Homo sapiens: one gene and its partners. The protein of the gene in region 7 purifies or fractionates together with the protein of the main gene of each other region. This does not show direct contact. Each region holds a gene or a part of one and is shown on either strand. Other genes may lie near its edges. The genes, in order: ZNF70, CLEC2D, SH3TC1, PCDHAC2, GRAMD1B, PVALB and ILDR2.

Region 1 (4,042 bases), on a different chromosome or scaffold from region 7:
CACTGCAGCCTTGACCTCCCCGGCTCAACTGATCCTCCAACCTCAGCCTCTCAAGTAGCTGGGACTACAGGGGCATATCAACACATCCAGCTAATTTTTTAATTTTTCTGTAGAGATGAGATAATATTATGTTGCCCAGGCTGGTCTTGAACTCCTGGGCTCAAGCAGTCCTCCCACCTCTGCCTCCCAAAGTGCTGGATTACAGGCATGAGCCACCATGCCCAGCAGAAATGATTTTTTTTTTTTTTTGAGGTGGAGTCTCACTCTTGTTGCCCAGCCAGGAGTGCAATGGCCCAATCTCGGCTCACTGCAACCTCTGCCTCCTGGGTTCAAGCAATTCTCCTGCCTCACCCTCCTGAATAGCTGGGATTACAGGCACCCGCCACCAGGCCCGGATAATTTTTGTATTTTTAGTAGAGATGGGGTTTCACTATGTTGGCCAGGCTGGTCTCGAACTCCTGACCTCAGGTGATCCGCCCACCTTGGCATCCCAAAGTGCTGGGATTACAGGTGTGAGCCACCACGCCCAGCCCAGAAATGATTTTTTTAAATGATTTTTCAGCCAATAGACCGACTGGATATAAAAAAAAAAGAGCACTGAACTAAAGTATTTTCTTTTTCCAGAATGGAGTGCAGTAGTGTGATTACAGCTCACTGGAACCTCTGGCTCCTGGGTTCAAGTGATTCTCCTATCTCAGCCTCTTAAGTAGCTAGGACACCATCCTGGCTAACACGGTGAAACCCTGTCTCTATTAAAAATACAAAAAAGGCCGGACGCGGTGGCTCACGCCTCTAATCCCAGCACTTTGGGAGGCCGAGGTGGGTGGATCATGAGGTCAGGAGTTCAAGACCAGCCTGGCCAAGATGGTGAAACCCCGTCTCTACTAAAATTACAAAAATTACAGCGCGTCTGTAATCCCAGCTACTCCGGGAGGCTGAGGCAGGAGAATCGCTTGAACCTGGGGGGCGGAGGTTGCAGTGAGCCGAGATCGCGCCACTGCACTCTAGCCTGGGTAACAGAGCGAGACTCCATCTCAAAAAAAAAAAAAAAAAAAAAAAAAAAAAAAAAGCCGGCCGTGGTGGCAGGTGCCTGTAGTCCCAGCTACTTGGGAGGCTGAGGCAGGAGAATGGCGTGAACCCAGGAGGCGGAGCTTGCAGTGAGCCGAGATCGCGCCACTGCACTCCAGGCTGGGCGACAGGACGAGACTCCGTCTCAAAAAAAAAAAAAAAAAAAAAAAAAAAGTAGCTGGGAATACAGGCTCTACAGGCACGTGCCACACCTGGCTAATTTTTGTATTTTTTGTAGAGATGGGTTTTCGCCATGTTGTGCAGACTGGTCTCGAATTTCTGAGCTCATGCGATCCACCCATTTTGGCCTCCGAAAGTGCTGGTATTATAGGCGTGAGCCCCCTCGCCCAGCCCTAAAGTATTTTCAAAAATTCTTTGATCACTTCAACTCCTCTCACCCTCCCCCTCCTCTTCAGCAACCCATAATCTCCAACTCTTCCAGCTCTCTCACTCAATTTGTGCTTTTCGACCTCATGAAATCCAAGCCATTTTTACTGTAGTTCTCCTTTTCTAGCTCCACCCCTTCTCCATCCAGCTTAGACTCTCCATACTATGCGCATCACTTCAACTCTCACGCTCTAGCACCATGCTCCTCACCTCCTCGTCCGGCTGCAACTAGCCGCTAAGTCCCAGTCTTCTCGGCCAGTTCCTCCTAAGTTGTTAAATGTTGCCAAGAAAAATCATACAACTATGTATGGCACCACGACAAATTTCGAGTTTCCGATTTCAGCTGGGACCTCAGCTCTGGCATTCTATGACCTCCTTATTGCCAATCCCTCTCTTCTCGGTCTTCACCTTCCCACCCCATCTGGCACTGCTCTCCAATACCTCCTTCTCAAAACCCTTCATTTCAGAGGTTGCAAATTGGCAGCCTGAAGATCCTGCTATGTTATGTTTGGCTCTCGAAGAGTTTGGCTTTTCCTGTTCATTTTCCTTAGTTACCAATATTTAAAACTCAGTAGGTTTCTGGCTTTCTCTTGAAAAACGAAGATGTGACAATATCCCTTCACCCGCCCACATTGCCTACCTAGGTGCATGAAAGCTTTGAGCTACCCCCCAACCCCATCCCCACCCTCGCTTTCTTCCCAATTTTCATGGCTTCCAAGTTCTCTTTCTTGATATCTTTAGATTGCAACTCTTCCTCCGCCCACCCATTAAGTCCTGGTGTTCTCAAACTTCCCTCCGTAGAGGTTTTCCATTCCCACTATATAGCCCCTACACCCTGAAGTCTCCACTCAGAAAAAAGTTGGCAACCCTTTATCTGTCTCCCACAACATGATAAGTGTTTTTGGACCGAAAATGCAAAGATCTGGAACTCCATGCTTCCCACCTCTGTCGGGGCCTTCTCCGGGTCCTCCTGCATCTGTCATCCCATCCTCCAGAGAGTCCCTAGGGCCTGGGCACCCTGCAAACTCTTAGTGCAGTCAAGGTTTCCTGGCTGGGGGCCCAAGAGTTGCCACGGACCCGCACACGCTGCCCAGGCGGCGACGTGGCGCCCCTACAGGCTTCCCCGCGATTGGGGACACGCACACCCAGGGCCACCGGAGGGACAGGTGGTCAGGCGGACTCAGGTCACACCGGCGGACGCGGGGCCACTCACCTGGGCCGGGGCGGGGCAGCTCACCTGGGCCGGGGCGGGGCCGCAGGCGGGCGGGGCGGGGCCGCACCTGAGCTGCTCCAACCCGCGGCCGACGCGGCCGACGCTGCCTGGCTCCACAGCAGCTGCTGACGCGGAGCCCGCGGCCGCCCGAGCACCCAGAGCCCCGCCCCCGGCCCGCGGGCACTTCCGGGACCACTCTAGGCCGCGCGGAGGTCCCGGCGTCTCGGTGGTCCCACCGCGCCGGTTGTCGCCGCGCGAAGCCGCCCGGGCCCCGGGACACAAGGACCCGAATCAGGAGAGTCTCTCCAGTCGGCATGGTGGCTCTGGCCGTCCCCGAAGCGCGTGCTGGACGTGGGGGAAACAGAGATGGGCAGGCGTTGGCAGGAGAGCAGAGGAGGAAACAGGTCCGGACGGGCGGGCCGACCTCGAGCCGCCGGCACTCGGGGCATCTGCGCTGGTGCTGGGTGCAAGCCAGAAGCCACTGAGGCAGCTGGGGTCTTCAGGGAAAGGAGAGTGGAGCCCCAGAGCTGTCGACCCTGTCACTGTCCACAGGCACCGGGGTCCTGTTAGGATCCCCCTCCCCCAACCTGCTTCAAGGGTAGCCCTGTTCCTGTCTGCCCTCCCCGCCCCCACAGAAATAGAGATGAGAAGGGGCAGGCGAAGAACTAGGAGTGTCTGCGAGACCATCCCAGGACCCTGAGCCCCCCAACTCTCTGCATCCCAGGGCTGACTTCGACATGAAGCGCCTCCTCTCAGGCGCACCGGGAGGGAAGAGGAATGTGTTCTTGAAATGGCCGCCCCCTTGGCCGGGCGCGGTGGCTCACGCCTTTAATCCCAGCATTTTGGGAGGCGGAGGCGGGTGGATCACGAGGTCAGGAGTTCGAGACTCAGCCAGACCAACATGGTGAAACCCTGTTTCTACTAAAAATTATCCGGGAGTGGTGACAAGCGCCTGTAATCCCAGCTACTGAGACAGGAGAATCGTTTGACCCTGAGAGGCGGAGGTTGCAGTGAGCCAAGATAGTGCCATTGCACTCCAGCCTGGGCGACAGAGCGAGACTCCATCTCAAAAAACAAAAAAAAAAAAAAGAAAAGGAATCTCCGCCCCCTCCTTGCTGCTGATGGCAAGACTGGCCCCTCCACCCAGTGTTCTGCCCATGACACCCCCCCCTCAGGTGCAGCTGCCCAGCTTGTGGGAGAGCTTCCCTCCGCAGACCTTGGCCCAATCACAGGACATCAGGAGAACACACTGTCCCTGGGAAAAAGGATTCTGCCCCAGCCGCCCACCTGCCTTCAGCACCCTCAGCCTTGGCGCTCGAGTGCCTCCAATGCTACCCACACACACCTGCCTTCCTGCCCCATTAATGCTCTGTC
Region 2 (3,171 bases), on a different chromosome or scaffold from region 7:
GCCTTAGAACCAGGAAATGTCTTCCTGACCAATACATGAAGTATTATTAAAATATGCCTAAATAAAACAAAGCATAATTCTCAGTGTAAGGCCAAAGGTCTGGGAAACTGGGGAACTCCAATGTCTGAGAGTAGAAAGAAATGGATGCCCTAGCTTTAGAAGAGAATAAATTTACCCTACCTGACTTTTTGCTCTGTTTGGGTAAGACCTGCACGGATTGGATGATGCCTGCCAACATTGGTGAAGGTAGATCATCTTTACACAGCTTAGTGATTCCAACATCAATCTCTTTCAGAAAAGCCCTCATAGACACATCCAGAGATAATGCTTTCCCTGCTGAGTATACCTTATCTCAGTCAAGTTGACATATAAAATTAGCCATCACACTTCACTTGACAGTTTTAAAGTGTTTTCAAAATGACTATTACTTAAAACAGAAAGCCAATCATCTTTTACATAATTGAGACCCACCCTGAAGAATAAGAGATAGCTGTAATATATTTACAGTTCACTGCCTTTCAAAGTGTTTATTCAGAATTATACTAGAAGTAATTTCATGAAAATAATATTGTGCAACCTTTTCATTCTATTTCAATGAAAAGCAGGCATGAACATTACTCAAGCTTGAAATTTTACTGAAAAGTAAACATTTCAATTAAGCTTAAGGAAAAAAGAAATTTCCTGAGATTTCCAGTGTATACAGAAGTGTCTTTCCATTAAGAATAATTAAAAGTTAAAAAATATGCTGATAACTTGCCACAATTGACAGAATGCAGATTAATAGGATAAATGGCAAACAAATCTATAAAAATGCATGCAGAGAATCAGAGTGATCACCCCACCAAGCAATGGGGTATAGATGGTGATATACCCTTGTCCTTAGGGGAGAGGGAGATGGGGAAGTGTGGGTGATTTTGGGGGAAGAGTAAATAATTTGGGGAGAACTTAATGGGGTGAAGATCACATAAATGGCCTGGGACAAAGTCTACTGGGCTTGCAGAGAAGACAATGGTTTGTGAGAAAAATCTATCCAGGTGGGTTAAGAGACTTCATTCTTTTTCCTACAATATGACTTCAGTTAATGAAAACCCATGGAAGGCACCAGAATTAACTGTTTTCTTATTTGGTGAGTCTGAACTTAAAGCAGATAAAGGAACTTCAGAGAACTTCCTCCTGTGCTCTGGGAAAACAGAGGATTAAGAAACAGAGGTTGAGGAGGAGGTCAGAGAGACCTCGAGTCTTCTTTAGTTCCACCTGTCAAATCACTATATGTTAGGGTATCCGTTTCTGAGCCCCAACAATAGTTTGGAAATATATTCTCCCAATCTGTAAGTTGTCTCTTTACTCCATTAATTATTTCCTTTGCTGTGCAGAAACATTTTTTATTTTATGCAATTTCATTTGTTTATTTTCACTGTGGTTGCATCTACTTTTGAGGTCAAATCCAAAAATTATTGCCCAGACCAACGTTGTGAAGCTTTCTCCCTATATTTTCTTTTAGTAGTTTTACAGTTTAAGTCTTTAATCGATTTTCAGTTGGTTTTTATATATGGTAGGAGGTAAGGGTCCAATTTTATTCTTCTGCATGTGGATATACAATTTTCCCACCACCATTCATTGAAGACTATTTTTTCCCCATTGTGTATTCAACATTTAGGGACTGGGGCTGGGGAATAGAGAGATGTTCCCCACATGTCACAGGGTAGTAGGTTTCAGTTAAGAGGAATAAGCTTTTGAGATCTATTGCACAGCATAGTGACTATAGTTAATAATAGTGTATTGGATCTTTCAAAATTGTCAAGAGAATAAATTTCAAATGTTCTCACCACAGAAAATGATAAGTATGTGAGATGATGAAATGTTAGTTTGATTTAATCATTCCATAGTGTACACATATATCAGAACATCACATTGTATTCCATAATTATACAGTTGTCAGCTAAAAATTTAAAAAATAAAAATATCCTTTAAAAATGCAAATAGCAACTGCAGATAGAAATTTATCATGTATCTCCCAATGTGCTTTTTTATTGTATATATTTGATGTGTATAATGTGATGTTTTTATGTACATACACTTAATCTAATTAACATAAGCTTCATCTCACATACTTACATTTCTTTTTGTCTGTGTGGTAAGAATATCTAAAATCTGTCATCAAGTTTTCAGTACACAGTGCAATACTATTATAGTCCTCATACTGTATGTTAGATATCTAGACATACTCACCCTTTGTAACTGCAACTCTGTATCTTTTGACCTGTGTCTCTGTATTTTCCTCATCTCTGGTAACCACCATTCTACTCTATTTCTATGTATTTGGGTTTTTTTTTTAAGTTTCACTATAAGTGAGATCATGCAACATTTTTTTTCTGTGTCTGGCTTATTTCACTTAGTATATATAATAAACCCTATAGGTTTATTTACATTGTTTCAAATAACAGTGCTGAGACCAGCTCAGTCGGGTAGATCCTAACCCAGCAGCGCCAGAGGAACTAAAGACACACACACAGAAATATAGAGGTGTGAAGTGGGAAATCAGGGGTCTCACAGCCTTCAGAGCTGAGAGCCCAGAACAGAGATTTACCCATGTATTTATTAACAGCAAGCCAGTCATTAGCATTGTTTCTATAGATATTAAATTAACTAAAAGTATCCCTTATGGGAAATGAAGGGATGGGCCGAATTAAAGGAATAGATTGGGCTAGTTAACTGCAGCAGGAACATGTCCTTAAGGCACAGATCGCTCATGCTATTGTTTGTAGCTTAAGAACGCCTTTAAGTGGTTTTCCACCCTGGGCAGGCCAGGTGTTCCTTGCCCTCATTCCCATAAACCCACAACCTTCCAGCGTGGGTGTTATGGCCATCACTAACATGTCACAGTGCTGCAGAGATTTTGTTTATGGCCAGTTTTGGGGTGAGTTTATGGCCAGATTTTGGGGGGCTTGTTCCCAACATAACAGGATTTCTTTTTACAAGGCTGAATAATATTCTATTTTTTATATATATATATATATGTATGTATGTATATAATGTGTGTGTTTTATATATATGACAATTTCTTTATCCATTCATCTGTTAATGGTCACTTCAGTTAGTTCCGTATCTTGGCTATTATGAATAAAGATGTGTTATAATAAACAGGAAAGCAGATATCTTTATGAGGTGGTG
Region 3 (3,500 bases), on a different chromosome or scaffold from region 7:
GAACTCCGGCACTGTGGGGACAGGGAAAACACAGGCCCATGGCCCAACTCTCCTATGAAATCACCCTCCTGTCCTCCTTTGTTGCCCACCTGACAGCATGGTTTTAGGAGACTATGTGTCAGCTCAGTGATCCCTCAGAGATGCCTTTCCCTTTAGAAAGAATCAAAGCCTTCTAACTGCACCCAAGTGTACGCAGCACTACGACTACAAATGTAATTTTTGTCAGCATACTGGGCCCCTCGATGGGGTACAGGAATCCATGAAATCCTCAACAGCCAGTCAGAGCTACTGATCAGCTCAAAAGCTGCTATGCAAAATTGGTAAAGCTACCCACAGCAGAGGACAGGGATGTTGTAGCCATGTACCCAGCTCCATGCAGGGAAATGGACCATCCCTGCAGGAAGGATGGGAAAGCTTCCAGGCTCCTGTGACCACCTTCACCTTGGATGGTCTGAAAACCTGAAGCCCGCAGTTCCTAAAGGGTTAACAAAGGCCAGGCTGCCCACGCAGCCTGCTGGCGCCTGCTGGCTTTGGTGGATTCCCAGCCAAAGCCCCCTCCCAGAGGTGAGCAAACAAGCGCATTTCCTGTTGGAAAACCTGGGACGAAAGGAGACATTACTGGGAAGGAAAGAATCTAGATTTAAATAGACTCTCTGTTTCAAGCTCACATGTAAAAAATATTTTCACTACAAACTGTCTCCTTATTCATCTGTAAAGCCTTGGAATTAAAAAAAAATTACATATGATTTAGAGGCAAATGTGACTTGACTACACTAGATTAGCTAAGAAATCTCCCTGCCCGGCAGAGGCAAACAGCCCCTCCCAGCTATTACCCTGGCCTTGGGGGCAGCTGGAGTCACTCGCATTTGCTCCAGGGACTTCGGCAGAGGGTGGATCCACCCCCTCCCCCAGGAAAACCTACAACAGCCTTCCCTTCCCCACTGGCTTCCAGGCCTCCTCTGGGACCTCCTGCCTGCATCCCAAATGTACTGGAATGGATCCCATTCCCAGGGAACTTCCGAGGGCTCTTGGGGTGTCCACATCCCCAGGCTCTCCCCATGCGGACCCTGTGTGAGGGGAAGAGACAGAGCTGTAGAGGGGAGATGGAAGGGTCTCCCTCAATCAGCCCCTCAGGAAGGAGCAGACCCTTGAGGGACCTCAGTTGAGGCCCCTGCAACCTAAGGCTCTGAATTCTGCCACCCACTGAGGGCAGTGTGGCCTCCCATCTCTGAGGCAGAGCAGAGGGCAAGCTGCAGCTTCTCCAGGTCATGAGAAAGGAACCCACAGCTACAAGTGGACCCAAGCAGTGGAAAGGATGCTCCATCTTGGGCGGGGACCAGGCGGGGGCCAGCATGTTCATTGGAAGAAGTGCGGGACCCCACGGCCTCCAGTGCCACAGTGGACGGGAGGTTCAGGCCCACCTCAGGCAACCTCCCCCAAGCCCCCAGCCCACACCACAGAGGGGTGACAGCCGCACCCAATGCCCACCGTGCTCAGCTTTGTCACCTCCCCCAGCGTTACCCCAAGGCCCAGCTCATAACCAGAGGAAGCCTGAGCCACTGGCAAAACCCACCTTTTTCCTGCGGCTGCTCGGTCTCAGCTTCCTCTACTGAGTCTGGCAAGGGAGAAAAGAGAAGCAATCAACACCCCCAGCCAGTACCTCTGGTCCCCTGCCAGGTTGAGCTAGTGTCGATGTTGCAGGGTGAGAGCATTGCTGGGTGCAGGTATTGAGGGCTGAGATGTTGCAGGGTGCTGGTGTTGCGGGCTGGAGTGTTGCAGGGTGCAGGTGTTGCAGGCTGAGGTGTTGCAGGGTCAGGTGCAACCAGCATAGGAGCACTGCTGACACCTGAGGGAGAGGCACCAGCCAATGGGCCAGAGAATTCTCATGTTCTAGCATCTCCAGGCCTCCACCCCACCCAACCCCTGTGGGGATTCCACTCTCCCGTCTTCTGGGGACATCCTCCCATCATCAGTGGGGAGCACGCTCTCGGCTTCCATCAGCTCCATCAGGGAGCAGGGCGCATTGAACAGGCAGCAGCTCTGAGTCCGACAGCCCAGGGATCAACACTGCTCCAGTGCACCCCCACCCTCTTCATCCCAGGGCAGGCAGCTACCGGGTCTCAGTTTCACCCCCGTAAAGTGGCTGACACTAACTGCTTACTGGGTTTCCGTGGAGGTCAAGTGAGAAATAGCTGTAAAAAGATGTGGAGATGTGGACAGCGTCAAGCGCTGTGAACTGCGATAACAGGTGTGCAGTTCTGGGGAGCACCCTGCAATGCCTCCATCTCACAACACCTGCATCCTGCAACACCCCCACTTATGACACCTGCACCCTGCAATGCCCCTGCCCACAACACCCCACGGTGTGGAGGGTCCCAAACCTGCTTCCTAAAAAGGACAGGAGATACCATCCAGGGGGTCTGAGCCTTGATATGCTGAGGTCAAGTCTAAGTTTGTCCATTCAGGAAGGGAAGTTGATTTGTGGGATCTACAAATGTTAACTCTAATACTGGTGGGAGAAAAGGTCTTGTAATGCATGTCATCGAGCAAGCAGGAAAAAAGTGTGTGTGGAAATGTATCTGTTTATATATGTGTGTGCATATGTGTGTGAGGGGGTGCATGGATATGTATGTACGTGTGCGTGTACACCTTGTGAGGAAGGTGCATGCACATGTGTGTATGTGTGTATACACCTCTGCAGGCACATGTGCACACATGTCTGCATGGGTGGGTGTGTGTGTGTGTATACTTGTGAGTGCATGTGTGCATGCACACAGTGTGTATTTACATGCGTATTTGTGTGTTTATGTCTGTGTTTGTACATGTGCACATAGGTATACAAGTAGGTGTGTAGATGCTGGGCACAGTGGCTCACAGCTGTAATCCCAGCACTTTGGGAGGCTGAGGCTGGCGGATCACCTGAGCTCAGGAGTTCGAGAACAGCCTGGCCAACATGGCGAAACTCTGTCTGTATAAAAAAATGCAAAACTAATCCAGGGTGTGGTGGCGCGTGCCTGTAGTTCCAGCTACTTGGGAGGCTGAGACACGAGAATCGCTTGAACCCGGGAGGCAGAGGTTGCAGTGAGCCGAGATCATGCCACTGCACTCCAGCCTGGGCAACAGCACAGGACTCTGTCTCAAAAAAAAAAAAAAAAAAAGTGGGTGTGTAGCCACACATTTGTGTTTATCTACACCCAGCAGATAGCACGGCCTCTGCCATGTTTCTTTATGTTGTGGATGACATGCCAACTTCATCTATGCGTTGCACTGCAGCCCCCAGAGAAAGCTTTTGCACACAGAGGGGCACTGAGGTCAGAGGGACTATCTCTGTCCTTAGGAGACGGCAGCCCTGGGGTCCCACCATGACACTCCCTGGCAGCCAGGTGACCAGGCCACACCACAGTCTGGGTTCTTTCTCTTGTGACAAGGAGAAAAGTCACTCTCACCCAGGCAAAGTGCAGTGGGCAGAGGGCTGGGCCCCAAACAGGAGCCCTCAGGGC
Region 4 (3,500 bases), on a different chromosome or scaffold from region 7:
ATGACAGACACCCAGAGAATGAGCAGTTCTCAAAAAGGTGGCTTAGAATTCCAGCTTATATAGCATCTTCAACAAAGAACAATAAATTTTTAAAGAAGTGTAAGACAAAGGAAAAGACCTTTAAGGACTTTGAGTCTCTAATGGGTAGCTACTTGGGGGAAGGCAAATGAATGGCAGATAAAGGCTAATTTGTAAAGCAGTACCATTTCCAGGCCAATAAGAGTCCAAAGTTATCTTCAGTGGTTAACCTTTGTTCTCCCTGGTGGTGGGAGGCAGAGGAGGGAGGTGGAAGTAGGATAACTTTTGTCTTTGTAAATTTATGGTTTTTTAGGCAAATACAGGGAGGGCAGAAGACCTCTCCTATATCTGCTTCTTTTATTATTATCATGATTATTATTTTTTAAATTTGAGATAGAGCCTTGCTCTGTTGCCCAAGCTGGAGTGCAGTGGCGAGATATCAGCTCACTGCAGTCTCTGCCTCCTAGGTCCAAGTAATTCTCGTGCCTCAGCCTCCTGAGTAGCTGGGACTACAGGCACATGCCACCATGCCTGGCTAATTTTTTTTTTTTTTTTTTTTTTTGTATTTTAGTAGAGATGGTGTTCCATCATGTTGCCCAGGCTGGTCTCGAACTCCTGAGCTCAGGCAATCTGTCCACTTTAGCCTCCCAAAATGCTAAGATTACAGGCATGAGCCCACTGCACCCAGCCTGTATCTGCTTCTTTTAACTTGCCTTCAGCTCAACAATCCTTCTTATTTTGGGACAGCATATTCTGGCCCCCACCATCAAAACATTCTCCTGACCTTTCTCTCTGACTGTTCTTTGACAGTTTCCTTTGTCAGTCTCCTCATCTGTGTGTTGAAGCTTCCTTGGGTTTGGCCCTAGACTCTCTTCTCTATTTTCTCTTCACTCTCTCCTTTTGGGATCTCAGCCATATCCATAGATATAAATACCATATGAATAAGCTGATGAGATGCAGACTTATATTTTAAGCCCACATCTCTCTGTGCTCCAATCTCATGTATAACTGCCTATCTGGTATCCCCAGTTGGAAATCTCATGGGCATCCCAAACTGAAGAAATCTGAAATCAAACTCTTGATTCCTCGAATCTATTCCTTTCTAAATCTTTCCAGTTTCAGTAAATTACACCCCATTTACCCCATTTCTCAAGCCAGAAAGTTCAAAGCTAATTATTCATTTTTCTCTATTCTATTCTTCATTCTCCATTTATAATACATCATCAAGACCTGTCATTTCTGCCTCCTAAATATATCTTGACTCTGTCCTCTTCTCCCAATTTTCACTGCCACCACTCTTTCAGGACACCATCATCTCTTATATGAATTGCAGCAATAGTCTCCTTATTCAGTCTGCTTCCACTTTTGCTTCTCTCCAACCCTCCACACAGTAGCCAGAGTCATCTTTATTTCTTAATGTCTCTCTTTAAAAACTGATGTATAACAGCCAGGCGCGGTGGCTCACACATGTAATCCCAGCACTTTGGGAGGCCGAGACAGGCAGATCTCGAGGTCAGGAGATTGAGACCATCCTGGCTAACACAGTGAAACCGCGTCTCTACTAAAAAATAGAAAAAACTTAGCCGGGCGTGGTGGTGGGCGCCTATAGTCCCAGCTACTCAGGAGGCTGAGGCAGGAGAATGGCATGAACCCGGGAAGTGGAGCTTGCAGTGAGCTGAGATCGTGCCACTGCAGTCCAGCCTGGGCAACAGAGCAAGACTCCATCTAAAAATAAAAAATTTAAAAAAAAATGAGGCATAACATACATATAGCAAACTCTTTTAAAAATATAAATCAGATTATATCACTCCTCTGCTTAAGCTTTCTACTGCCTTGAGAAAAAAAAAAAAAACTCCTTACCATGATACATAAGTCCCTTCAATAATCTGATTTTTATTTCTTCTCCACTCTCATCTACAAATCTCCCTCTTACTATTATACTCCAACCATACAGGCCTTCTTTCAGATCCTCAAACACTCTTTGGAATTGTTTTTTTATTGTTGTTTGTTAGAGATAGGTTCTCACTCTGTCAACCAGGCTGAAGTGCAGTGGTGCAATCATTGCTTGATGTAACCTCAAACTCCTGGACTCAATCGACCCTCCTGTCTCAGCCTCCCAAGTGGCTGGGACTACAGGCCACCATACCTGGCTCCTTGGAGTTGTTTTTGCCTCAGGATCTTTACACATCTGGTTTGCTTTTGTCTTGAATGATTTCTCATCCATTCTTTTTTTTTTTTTTTTTTTTTTTTTTTTTTGAGACGGAGTTTCGCTCTGTCGCCCAGGCTGGAGTGCAGTGGCGCGATCTCGACTCACTGCAAGCTCCGCCTCCCGGGTTCACGCCATTCTCCTGCCTCAGCCTCCTGTGTAGCTGGGACTACAGGCACGCGCCACCATGCCCGGCTAATTTTTGTATTTTTAGTAGAGACGGGGTTTCACCGTGTTAGCCAGGATGGTCTCGATCTCCTGACCTCATGATCCGCCCGTCTCGGCCTCCCAAAGTGCTGGGATTACAGGCGTGAGCCTCTCATCCATTCTTAGCATGACTCCTCACTCTTCAAGTCTGTATTAAATGTAACCTCCTTGGAAAGGCATTCTATGACATTCCTAGCCAAGCAGCACCCCCTTGGCCTATTATTCTCTACCACTGTAAGATTCACAAAGGCAAAAAATGTATCTGTTTATTCACCAATGTATCACCAGTGCCTAGCACAATTCCTGGCCCATAACAGGTGTTTAGTAAATACTTGCTGGATGAATGAATGAAAGGACTGATGTGAGAAGTGAAAGTGGTACCCACTCTTTAGCAGACCAAACAACTCTCCAATGAGGCACTTTTGGGGTCCCTAAAGACAATGATGTAATGCATGTAAAGTACTAAGCTTGATCCTTAGCACAATGCAAGAATTCAGTAAATGGTATCACATATGGGCAATTATATATAATGCAGCTCTCAGGGCTTAGGAGACCAAGATAATGATACTGCAAATTTACAGCAGGCAGTGACGAGAGAGGGTAAGAAATTTTCTTCTCTCTTCCAAACCCTTTTCCTTACACCCTGGCAGAGCTGACACAATAGCACTTTAGGGATGAGAAACAAATTTTTTCTCTGAGACTAATGACTTTGATCTATCTAAGTTAATCAAATCTGCAATTGAGCTCAGCCAGAATCTGCCTGTTTACCTTTAAAATACAGGTCCTGTCTCTAAGAGACTGAGACAAAAGAGAGAAATGTATTTAAAAACCTCTGATTCGGCACCTAAAACTGGGTTTCAGCACCACTCCACAGTCCTTTAGTTGCCCTCAGAGCCCAAAATGGAAATTTTTCTTCAACCATAACCAGGACTCTGCATGAGGCCTAAGCACTGTCATCTGGAGATGCAGAACACAGAGATATGTTCATCTTGCACAGTTAAAGGACATTAATGGCTGTGTGTATTGGCAGAGGGAGCCCCTCACAGCAGGACTGCCAAGAGTTAATCCA
Region 5 (3,500 bases), on a different chromosome or scaffold from region 7:
AACGTGTGGGCTCCATGAGTGCACAGTTCCAGTGCCTGGCACAGAGCAGACACCCAGAACATCTAATGAAGGAATGAACTCCTAAAATGCCCTCTAGCATTTCTCTGTTAGCATTTAACCATCTGTGCAGGAATTTCAAATGTTCTGTCTCTCTCACCCACTTGAAACTGAAACCCTGAAGGGTATGGATGCTGCATGAAGCATTTTCTTCTGAAGGCCTAGCATACAGTAAATGCTGAACAAAGCAGAGAAAAAGAAGCGAAGAGGTAAGCAACAGGCAGAGCAACCAATCCAGACAGAGAAGACTAGAGGATAAGGCAAAAACCAGGGCAAACAGTAAGGGTGCTCAGATGCTTCAAGAGACGAGGGCTGGGGCACCAGGCTGGAAAGGGAAGGTGGTGAGGGCAGGATAGGAAAACCTAGAATCCCTTACACACAGCTGATAACCAGCAGCAGCTTGGACACGCTCTGCAGGTGGAAACCGTTGGGGGTGTCCTCCGGGATATGCCGCGTCTGTGTGGAACCTGTGGGGAGAATTAAAGAGACCATCACCATGGTGACCCACAAGTCCAACAACTGCTGGTGGGGACACTGGTCAAACAGCAAACATCAGAGACTGATGGAAAAATGTCCATGACACTGTGACAGCAACGATATGCGGAGACTGCCAGCTCTCCAAGAGGAGAAGGTAAAATCCTCAAGGGCAAGGTCATGGGTTGGGTCAGGTCATCATTGAACAAATGAGAAAATCAACAGGCCCATGTAGCTAGGATACACAGGCCCAGGACAAAGGGATCTTCAGCTATGGGAGAGGATGTGGCATTGGGCTAGGACTAAAGACGGCTGGCTTCTGGGTCTGGATCTATTCCTAGTAAGCTACATGATGGAGGACAAGTCATGTAAGCTCTCTGAGAGTCAGTTTACTCAAATGCAATGTCAGTCAGAAATCTTAAATGCAAAACACGTAACATGGAAGTGCTAGGGGTAAAGCTAGGCGGCATGCAGAAGGCTGGCACTCTTCCCCCACTCTCCCCTCTTCTTCTGCCTCCCCTGTCCATATCCAACTCAATTAGTTGGTCTCTAAGGCCCCTTAGAGTCCCAGGTTTCCAGGATTCAGCAAAGACAAGGATGTGAATGGCTGGGTGGGAAGAGGAAGAAATATTAAGGGAGTCCACGGCCTGAGAGGGCAAGCCTGGGTTGGCCCATGCGGGTTGAAGTGAACGGGGACTGTCTTGGTCTCCCTGATCTTTGTGTAATGAGGTAATCTCTGTGGTCTGAGCTGTGGGATCTCCTTAGTGTATTTCCCAAGAACTTGGAAGCTTCATACTTGAGCCTATGCAGGTAGCCATGGAACTAGGGCAACACGAAAGCATAAACACTAAGGCAGCTTTTGTTAATTAGAGCACACATATGGGTTCAGCTGGGGCTGAGGAACTTAAAGAGCAAAGAGAAACAGAGCATTGGGAGCCTCAGATTTAGTGACTTACGTTCAAATTATATACAAATTATAGCCAAGGTGCAAAATGAGTGTGCATGTGTGTGCCTTGGTGTGGGCATGCAGCTCCAGCCCAAAGCTTAGTCCACCCGACCTGTCCCCACCTGGCACACACCTGCCACATGTTTGATCCTGTGGCCCACATCCTCATCTGTGGGCGTGGTGACCGGGCTCATCACCTCTTCCAGGTGAGGGACTCGCAGGTGGGCATGGGGACGCTTCCTCCTCCGCACCGTTGTAGTCTTGCTGGCCTTCTCTTTGGGAGATTGTCTGTGCATCTCAGCCAAATAAGTGCTCTCCGTTTTGGCCAGCTCGCTCTCTATCAGAGACAAAAGGACCACAGGAGAGGCCACCTTCAGCCCTCCAATGCAACTCTCTGCAGAACCATTTTCCTATTCTGTATTCTGGGAAGTTGGTTGGGTGGGTTGAGGATCCTCAGGGATGCCCATGAGCCTCAGGAGGTACTTGTGGGACCCAGCCCCAGTCAAACCCTTCCTCTGGGGTTGTTCAACATTGCAAGGAACCATATGTTCCCAATATCTGCACCCTCATGTATACAATTTGGGGCATACACGTCTTAAATAGATGCATTCACAGGCATTTTACAAATACTTCTCGTCACAGAGCCACCTATATCACTAGGTCTGTGGTTCCTTTTGGGGTGAGGGGTGTTTTATAGATCCCTCAATGATCTCTTAAACATCCTAGACACAGTCTAGAAAAATGCACTTGTCCACATACATGCCAAATTTGGTGTCCACTTCTGAAGCAGGTGTGGGTACCTCATGAAACTACTTCACCTTTCAGTCTCTGCCTCTATTCTCAATACCATTCCCCTGAATGGTGGGCGGCCGCAGTGCAGTTTACCATCTCTGCAGCCCAGCTAGCAGCAAGGATTGCAGTGCTCACCTAAATGGCGGAAGTAGTCCTCCAGCCCACTCCAGAAGTTCTTCTCGATGAACGTTTTCACTAACCCCCAGGGCTGTTTTCGATAGCGCAGCTCTGTGGAGACCCTGAGGAGCAAGCCAGACACAAGATCAGTCATTTCCTGGGTGGGCCTGCCTCTGCTGGGAAAAGGGAAATTCGGAGTTAAGGCCAGATCCGCTTCACATTTGTACTAAACTTTACAAGTTAAAAGGTCCTTCCACATCCATCTCACCCTCTGAAGTCAGTGGAGCTGGTGGATTTATCCCCATTTTATAGATAAGAAAACTGAGCCGTAGGATATTTAAGCAGAGCAAAGGCTAACAACTAGGGTTCTGACTCCAGAGTTCTCTTATGATGGCACACTGCCTCCTCTCAGGGGTCTCACATAGGGCCCAGCAGCCTGCCTGCCAGGCAAGGGGAAGCTCTGCCTGAGGTTCAAGTCTTTTGAGAAACTGACACTGAAAGAAAGTAAGACGGCTCATCCTTTCATCAGGGTCATTCTCTCCTTCTCCAGAGACTTTTAAGTCTAAGTCAAGTTCTGGGTTTTTATCACTTTAACCTTTAAAAGTATGTCATCCTGGGCAACAGAGTGAGACCCCCATCTCTACAAAAACAAAAATAATTAGCCAGGGTCATGTCTGTAGTCCCAGCTAATGGGAGGTTGAGGTGGAGGTTGAGGCTGCAGTGAGCCATGATCACACCACTGCACTCCAGCCTGGGGAAGAGAGTGAGATCCTGTCTCAGAAAAAAAAAAAGAATATCATCTGCTGCCAGCCCTGGCTCCTGCCTCTCCACTGCACCCCAGACCTCACCAGCTCTTGCTCTTTTCCAAGCATTCTTGCTCCCAGTCACTGGTCACACTTCTGTCCATACCCCCTGCAGTATCAGCTCTTTTCTCTCCTATGCAGCAGCCCTGCTCTTTGCCTCCCCCTTAGGTTCATCTGCATCTGTCAATAGATTCTCCCAGCTAATCCATCCCGCCCCATCCCGCCCTGTGACTAAGGCTGCCAGCCCAGCCTCATCCCCCTCCTCAGGGATGCCACCTCCACCCATGTCCAGATGGGAGAATGCCTGTACT
Region 6 (3,417 bases), on a different chromosome or scaffold from region 7:
CACCCATTCATCCATCGTCCATTCACCCACCCATCCATCCATTTACCCATCTGCCCACCCATCTACTCACCCATCCATCTATCCATCTATCCACCCACCCATCCACCCACCCATTCATCCACCCACCCATCCATCCATCCATCCATCCATCCATCCATCCATCCATCCATCCACCTACCCATCCACGGACCTGCATTCAAATCCCAACACTAGCAAATCCTGTATTTGTGGGCTTAGACACATCACATCCCCTCTCTGAGACTCAGTTTTTCAGAGAATGGGAGTTTCATCACCTACCTTATGGGGTGGTTTTAGGGAGTAAGTGGGTAACCTCTGTAGAGTTCCATGCTTAGTACTTAGAACAGAAAAGAGACTGTTCCCTTCCATTCCCTCCTATCACAACTTTTCTAACTGTTGAAATCCAGCCCCCACCCCCTGCCCAGATGCATCTGGAAAGCCAATGCCTGACCAGGCCTGGGTCTTCCTGAGCAAGCAGAGTCTGACTGGTACAACCTTTATTGCTTCTCCAGCATTTTCCAGAAGAATGGTGTCATTAGAGGGCCACAGGGGATGGGGGAGTAAAAAATAACATAAACGAACTGAACAGAAATGCAGGAGGGTGGCGAGAGGGGCCGAGATTGGGTGTTCAGGGCAGAGAGGTGGAAGACCAGGGGCAGTCAGTGCTTCTTAGCTTTCAGCCACCAGAGTGGAGAATTCTGCAGAACAAAATGACAAGGAAAGTGAGTCAGAGGCGGGGATGCAAGAGAGACTGTCCACACCTGACTGCGGGGCCCTGGGTGGTGCTCTCTCTGGGTTCTTGCTTCTGCTGCAGCAGCCCCAGAGCGTAAGTGTGAAAATGAATGAATGAATAAATGAATGAATGAGCAGATGAGTGAAGTGAGGTGGGAAATGATGGGCCTACCACATCTTTTGGTTCATCATGCCATGCCACACCCAAAATCATTAATAATAACTACACTAATAACAATAGCAATAATAATAATAATAGTTTTCTGAATGCTTATCATATGCCAGGCACTATTCGAAACACTTTATATGCAATATCTTATTTGACTCTGACAATAGTCCTGTCTGGTGCATTTTGGCATTGTTCCTGTTCTACAGATGAAGAAACTGAGGCTCAGGGTCCTGATTTCTGGACTTCTCTGCTGTTTTTCTCCCCAGGAGATGAGAGAGGACAAGGAGTTTGCTGCCACGTGCCACTACGTGTCTCTGAGATGCCATGTCTCAGCCTGCTGGGGAGTGTAGGGTCTCAGGCAAGTGCCCATCGCCCTAGAAAATGCAGTGTTGTCTTGGCTGGGCACAGTGGCTCACGCGTGTAATCCCAGCACTTTGGGAGGCTGAGGCAGGTGAATCACTTGAGGTCAGGAGTTTGAGACCAGCCTGGCCAACATGGTAAAACCCTGTATCTACTGAAAATGCAAAAATTAGCTGGGTGTGGTGGCGGACGCCTGTAATCCCAGCTACTCCAAAGTCTGAGGCAGGAGAATTGCTTGATCCCAGAAGGCAGAGGTTGCAGTGAGCCAAGATCGTGCCACCGCACTCCAGCTTGGGCAATAGAGTCAGACTCTGTCTCAAAACAAACAAAAAAAAGAAAAGAAAAAAGAAAATGGAGTGTTGTGATGTGGGGAGAGCACAGGCTGGGGATTGAAAGTTAGGGCTTCCAGGCTTAGTCTGGCCCTATTTGCTGGAAAATGTATCTCTCTGGGTTTTGGTTCCCTCATCTGTCAGTGGAGTGAAGAGAGGGGCCAGTAATAATTGCTTGGGTGAGACAAATAAAAAACTGGTCGTGAAATGGCTTCAAAAAGGCCACAAAAAGTATCTGAGACTCATTTGAGGTGAGCTGCGTCCTCCCTGGACTTTGTGTGGAATACAAATGTAAAACCCCACCTATCCAGTTTCTTAGTTTTCATCATTGTACTGTGGTTATGTAAAATATTAACATCGGGGGAGCTGGGTGAAGGGTGTACAGGACTCTCTGTACTATCATTTCAATTCTTCTGTATATCTACAATTATTTCAAAATAAAAAAGTGAAAACACACACACACAAAAGCCAAACCAACACATGCTGTATTGTAGAAATAACCTGGCACTGGGCTGGGCACGGTGGCTCGCTCCTGTAATCCCAGCACTTTGGGAGGCTGAGGTGGGCGGATCACGAGGTCAAGAGATCGAGACTATCCTGGCCAACACGGTGAAACCCTGTCTCTACTAAAAATACAAAAATTAGCTGGACGTGGTGGCGCACACCTGTAGTCCCAGCTACTTGGGAAGCAGAGGCAGGAGGATTGCTTGAACACAGGAGGCAGAGGTTGCAGTGAGCCGAGATCGTGCCACTGCACTCCAGCCTGGTAACAGAGTGAGACTCCATCTCACACAAAAAAAAAAAAAAAAAAAAAAAGAAAGAAACAACCTGGCACTGGCCCTGGCTAGATGAAGGGACACGTACCTGGGTGCCTCACCTTCCTGAGGTTTGACTTAGGAAATAGACATCATCCTTTCCTGTCCCCAGGCTGTCCTAGGATAGGAAAAGTGGGTGACCTGGATATGGGGGATGCAGGGTGGGAGAGAGTGAGGGTCCACCAGCTGGTTTTGAAATCTCCAGGCTCTCTGGCTGAGTGGTAACAGCAGTGCCAAGGATGGAGTCTCAAATAAATACCAAAACAACAAATACTCGTACAGAATCCCTCCCATAGGGCAGGCGTCAAAGTGCTTGCTTTCTCAGCCAGGAGCCTGTGATCTTCCAGGACCTCGGTGGGGCAGGTGGTTATTTTGAGATGTCTTTTATTAGCAGTACTTTTATTAATTATAGCTAGTAACTAACATTTATCGAATGCCAATGTGGGAAGCATTTTGCATATATTATCTCATTGAATCCTCATGACTACTCCATGGGAGAGACACCTTTGTCTGCATTTTACAGATGGGGAAACTGAGGCTCAAAAATTAAGTAGCTTGACCATGACATGATTCAAGCTAGAAATGCTCTTAGGCTTCCTTCTTCATCCCTGTAGTTTCCGACCTACTTTGACCTTGGTATAGAGTGACACATGTCCCAGCTCAAATATCACCATCCCATCGCATTAGTCCTTTTTTATTTACTTCATAGTCCTTGGCACTCTCTGAAATGATCTTATTTATGCACTTATTTTTGTCAGTCTCCCCCTACTAGAATGCAAACTCTAGAGGGCAGGGGAGCCTCTCTCTTGTTCACTGTTCTCCTGGCAGCCACAGTGTTCCTGGCACACAGTAGGTGCTCATAAATAAGCTCTGGGTGGATGGATGGAGGGATGGATGGACAGATGGAGGGAGGGATAGAGGGATGGATGGATGGGGGGTAGATGGATGGATGGATGGATGAGGAATGGGTGGATGGAGGGATGAGGAATGGATG
Region 7 (3,500 bases):
GAGTAGGCAGCTCTTGGCATTTTGAAAATAATGAAGTCTATATAAGACCACTTACAAAAGAGACAATGAACTGGATAGGGACCAAAGGATTTCCTTCACATATACGGGCACAATGCAGTTTACACTCAATAAAACATCAAAAGAGGACAGACATGAGTTGTCCTTTGCAAACAGCAGTGGCTCTTAGCCTTCTCTGGGATGTGGGTTCTTGGAAATCGGATGCAAGTTACAAACCCTCGCCCCAAGCAGGGCTGGGGAGGAATGCACATAGAAGGATGCATCGAAGATTCTGCACACAGACCTCAGAAGCCCACTAAAGGCCGGTGGTGGTGATGGCTCCCGAGATCCCTGATGCTAAAGGCTTCTGAGTTGGTTAAATACCTAATGCTCCCTGTAAAACCATATACACGCCTTCAACTTTCTGCCTGTTTTTCAACTCTCCCAGCCCTTGCTTCCTTCCTTCATCTGGCCTTGGACAGAGTGAGGCTGAAAAAGCCCCCGGCCTAGCATCCGCGGACGAACTCGCCCAGGCAGGCCCCTGCGGCCTCTCCGGCAAGGACCCTCCCGCCTCGCCACCTCCCCGGCCCCCAGACAGCGACACTGCTCGCCCTGCCTGGAGGCTCCCGCTCAGTCCCCTCGGAGGAGGGGAGGCAGACGCAGTCTCACGGTTTTCTTGGCGGGCTCCTTTTTCCTCTTCTTCTCCGAGTTGCTGTGGTAGGGCAGGTCGCGGCCGCGGTAGGACGGGCCGCGGGTCAGCTCCAGCTCGCTGTAGGGCGGCAGCGCGTCGTCGGACGCGTCCTCCTGGTCGTCCTGCGACGAGCCGGCCTTGTAGGTGCCGGGCGGCGACCAAGCGTAGTAGGAGGCGCTGCGCGGGCCGAGCTGCGCGCTCCGCTTGGATGGCGTCTCCAGGCTGCCACCGCGGCTGGCGCCCTCGGGCCGCGCCTGGCGCTCCCGCGCGCTGCCCAGGTACGAGTGGTCGTATTTGGGTGCGGTGCCTGGCGTGCGGCTCACCAGCCGCGGCAGGTGCGCGTCCTCGGCGGGTCTGCGGCGCGCGGGGCTGAAGGCCCAGCCGCGGTCAGCATCGGTCAGGGGCTCGCGGCTGCGGCTGCGCTGACCGTAGTACTCCTCCAAGGAGTCGTCCTGGTAGAAGCCGCTGTGCGCCCGCGACTCCGAGCGCTCGAAGCGGCTCCCGCCCCGCGCCTCGTGACTGTTGCCGTCTGCCCGGCGGGGCCGCTGGCCGTAGGAGTCAGCGAAGGCCGCCAGCTCGTCCATGGAAACGGCCGGCACCCCCGTGGCGAAGTTCTTCCGCGACAGCATCTCCGACTTGGAGCGCGGCTGGCTGCGGGCAGAGAAGGAGGGGGTCAGACGGCCGGTCCCTCCCTGGAGCTCCAGGTAGGGCTCCCAAGAGCACCCATCGTGTCCTGGGGCCACGCTCAGGAGACCTCGGCCTGAGCCTCAGCTCCGCTCCAGGCTGGATGAAGCATTCCAGGCTCCTCTCACACCCCAGAACGTCAAGTAGGGGCAACCGAGTCTATTCCACTCGTGTGCCACGCATCAAAATGGGGTTGTGTGGATAGAACATATTCTGTATCCTATGGAATACTGACCCACCGTGGGGCTGCCTTCTGGTCATTATGTTGTGACCTCGGGTTGACAGCCACACGTCTCCACCCTCAAAGCCAGCGCAGGTGTCAGTACACACAGTTATGGTCCCAGGAGTCCCTGTAATGTGTGGTGACACACAGAGAGGCCTTTTCTTCCCTCAGAGCCAAGGGCCAAGTTACCTACTGGGGCAGGAGGGGAGAAGGACACTTGCAATTTGTAAGGGAAAGGCAATGTTCACTGTCTTTTAAGGTAAAGGACAGATGAGTGGTGAAGGTGCTATTTAGGGGGAATAGCAAATCTTAGCCTCCCACAATTGTTGTGGGAGGCCACATCACCTGGGTAAGTGCCTTAGCACCTAGAAGTTTCCATTTTCCCAGCTTAAAATAGGGGCATTAATAGTAGCTGCCCTTTAGAGTTATGAGAATTAAATGTAAGAGAAGTGTTTGGCATTTTACCTTTCATATACTAAATGATCAAAAATGAGGGAGATGGCCAGGCATGATGGCTCATGCCTGTAATCCCAGCACTTTGGGAGGCCAAGGTGGGTGGATCGCTTGAGCTCAGGAGTTCAAGACCAGTCTGTCAACGTGGCAAAACCCTGTCTCTACCGAAAAAAACAAAAAAAAGATGGAGATGATGGGTGGGATTTTGTAGAGGTTATAGGATAAAATATATGAGAAGGGCAGAGATATATTAATGTTCATTAAAGGGTCTAGGGGACCCATTTCAAAGGTCTTGAATAATTACTTCTACACATGTTGTCACAAGTGTTCCCTGTCTTGACAAATGTGAGATGTTCAATATCCTGTAGAAAGAGAGATGTGTCAGGATAACCTGGAATGGGAGACAGAGATGCTACTGGATGGCATCTTCCTTGCCTCCGATCTACCCTGCCTTCCAGCTCCTGCCCCCTCACACCGACCAGACCTGCCCCTCACAGCCATCACCTGTGCCTGAAGCTCTCTCGATCCTCTTTGTTATACTCCATGGCTGAGGGCCCGCGGCTTGCCCCACTGCTGCCTCCCATGACACCTGACCAATAGTCAGGATTGCTCTCCAAGTCCCCAGACACAGGGAACTGCTTGCTTCTCATCTGATGGAAAGACTGGCGGAAATTGCTGTCCTCCTCATGTAGGGAGCTGAGTTCTGAGATGGTGTTGTTATCTGCAGGGACAAAATCAGGCATGATAGAGCTTTTTGTGTTACTCTGTTTTAGACAGGAAGAGAATCCTGTTAAGGGCTGAGACCCTAGGCTCCAGGAAACTCCTGCCTCATTGCTGTCCAGGGTGGGTTGTAAGCCTGAACTAGTGGTGTTTGTATTCTTAGCTCAGCAGGCATTGGCTCCAGTTTGAAGCCTACTTGCTTACAGAGAGGGAGGTTCCTACATGCTCTGTTCTTGGAATAGGAGAACAAGTTTGTTATTGTTGCACCTAAGGCAGGCTTTCCAGAACTCAGGATCTCTGTTGCTGGCCTCCTCCTAGTACATCATCATCCTTGTTCAAATGTTTTCTTCTTCCTTTATAATTCTGTGATGAGCTGTGTTGATCCTAGACATGTTAAGCCAAAAACAGAAAAAGAGAGACAGAAGCCATAGATCACAGCATCTTCCTTACTGCTGGCCCAGTCCTAAGATGGACCTTCAGAGCCAGTACTGCCATATGCTGTAGAGGCACTGCATTCTGGCCTCCTTTGGCTGTGCCCCTCCCCACAGAGCAGGAAGTCCACAGAATAGTTGAATAGTCAAGGGGAAACCTGTACCTAGTATCCATATACCCCCTGACTTAGCCCATGCTCATTTAGGAACCTGGAAGATCCTGCTCAAGTAGCACCAAGCCTACTTCCAGCACTTGGGCAGACCTCTTCCCCTCTCCCAAAAAAGTTTTCCAGGGGTATGT

Evidence for each region.
Region 1: the proteins of ILDR2 (region 7) and ZNF70 purify together in Homo sapiens (affinity purification with western blotting; one study listed by BioGRID). This does not show direct contact.
Region 2: the proteins of ILDR2 (region 7) and CLEC2D purify together in Homo sapiens (co-immunoprecipitation; one large-scale study listed by IntAct). This does not show direct contact.
Region 3: the proteins of ILDR2 (region 7) and SH3TC1 purify together in Homo sapiens (affinity purification with mass spectrometry, with the first as the bait; one study listed by BioGRID). This does not show direct contact.
Region 4: the proteins of ILDR2 (region 7) and PCDHAC2 purify together in Homo sapiens (co-immunoprecipitation; one large-scale study listed by IntAct). This does not show direct contact.
Region 5: the proteins of ILDR2 (region 7) and GRAMD1B purify together in Homo sapiens (co-immunoprecipitation; one large-scale study listed by IntAct). This does not show direct contact.
Region 6: the proteins of ILDR2 (region 7) and PVALB purify together in Homo sapiens (affinity purification with mass spectrometry, with the first as the bait; one study listed by BioGRID). This does not show direct contact.

What each region holds. Positions count from the first base shown.
Region 1 is NC_000022.11:23,748,313-23,752,354, forward strand, and holds the start of ZNF70 (zinc finger protein 70), read right to left. Parts: upstream 2,801-4,042; 5' UTR 2,399-2,800; intron 1-2,398.
Region 2 is NC_000012.12:9,696,883-9,700,053, reverse strand, and holds the end of CLEC2D (C-type lectin domain family 2 member D), read right to left. Parts: 3' UTR 501-3,171; downstream 1-500. UniProt on the Homo sapiens protein: Receptor for KLRB1 that protects target cells against natural killer cell-mediated lysis. Inhibits osteoclast formation. Inhibits bone resorption. Modulates the release of interferon-gamma. Binds high molecular weight sulfated glycosaminoglycans.
Region 3 is NC_000004.12:8,223,290-8,226,789, reverse strand, and holds part of SH3TC1 (SH3 domain and tetratricopeptide repeat-containing protein 1), read right to left. Parts: intron 1,616-3,500; coding exon 1,574-1,615; intron 1-1,573.
Region 4 is NC_000005.10:141,004,476-141,007,975, reverse strand, and holds part of PCDHAC2 (protocadherin alpha-C2 isoform 1 precursor), read right to left. Parts: intron 1-3,500. UniProt on the Homo sapiens protein: Potential calcium-dependent cell-adhesion protein. May be involved in the establishment and maintenance of specific neuronal connections in the brain.
Region 5 is NC_000011.10:123,611,769-123,615,268, reverse strand, and holds part of GRAMD1B (protein Aster-B), read right to left. Parts: intron 2,509-3,500; coding exon 2,405-2,508; intron 1,815-2,404; coding exon 1,611-1,814; intron 525-1,610; coding exon 434-524; intron 1-433. UniProt on the Homo sapiens protein: Cholesterol transporter that mediates non-vesicular transport of cholesterol from the plasma membrane (PM) to the endoplasmic reticulum (ER).
Region 6 is NC_000022.11:36,800,203-36,803,619, forward strand, and holds the end of PVALB (parvalbumin alpha), read right to left. Parts: intron 717-3,417; coding exon 688-716; 3' UTR 501-687; downstream 1-500. UniProt on the Homo sapiens protein: In muscle, parvalbumin is thought to be involved in relaxation after contraction. It binds two calcium ions.
Region 7 is NC_000001.11:166,920,041-166,923,540, forward strand, and holds part of ILDR2 (immunoglobulin-like domain-containing receptor 2 isoform 1 precursor), read right to left. Parts: intron 3,153-3,500; coding exon of another isoform or gene 3,151-3,152; exon of another isoform or gene 3,061-3,150; intron 2,770-3,060; coding exon 2,553-2,769; intron 2,411-2,552; coding exon of another isoform or gene 2,332-2,410; exon of another isoform or gene 2,191-2,331; intron 1,340-2,190; coding exon 667-1,339; coding exon of another isoform or gene 628-666; exon of another isoform or gene 1-627. UniProt on the Homo sapiens protein: May be involved in ER stress pathways with effects on lipid homeostasis and insulin secretion. With ILDR1 and LSR, involved in the maintain of the epithelial barrier function through the recruitment of MARVELD2/tricellulin to tricellular tight junctions.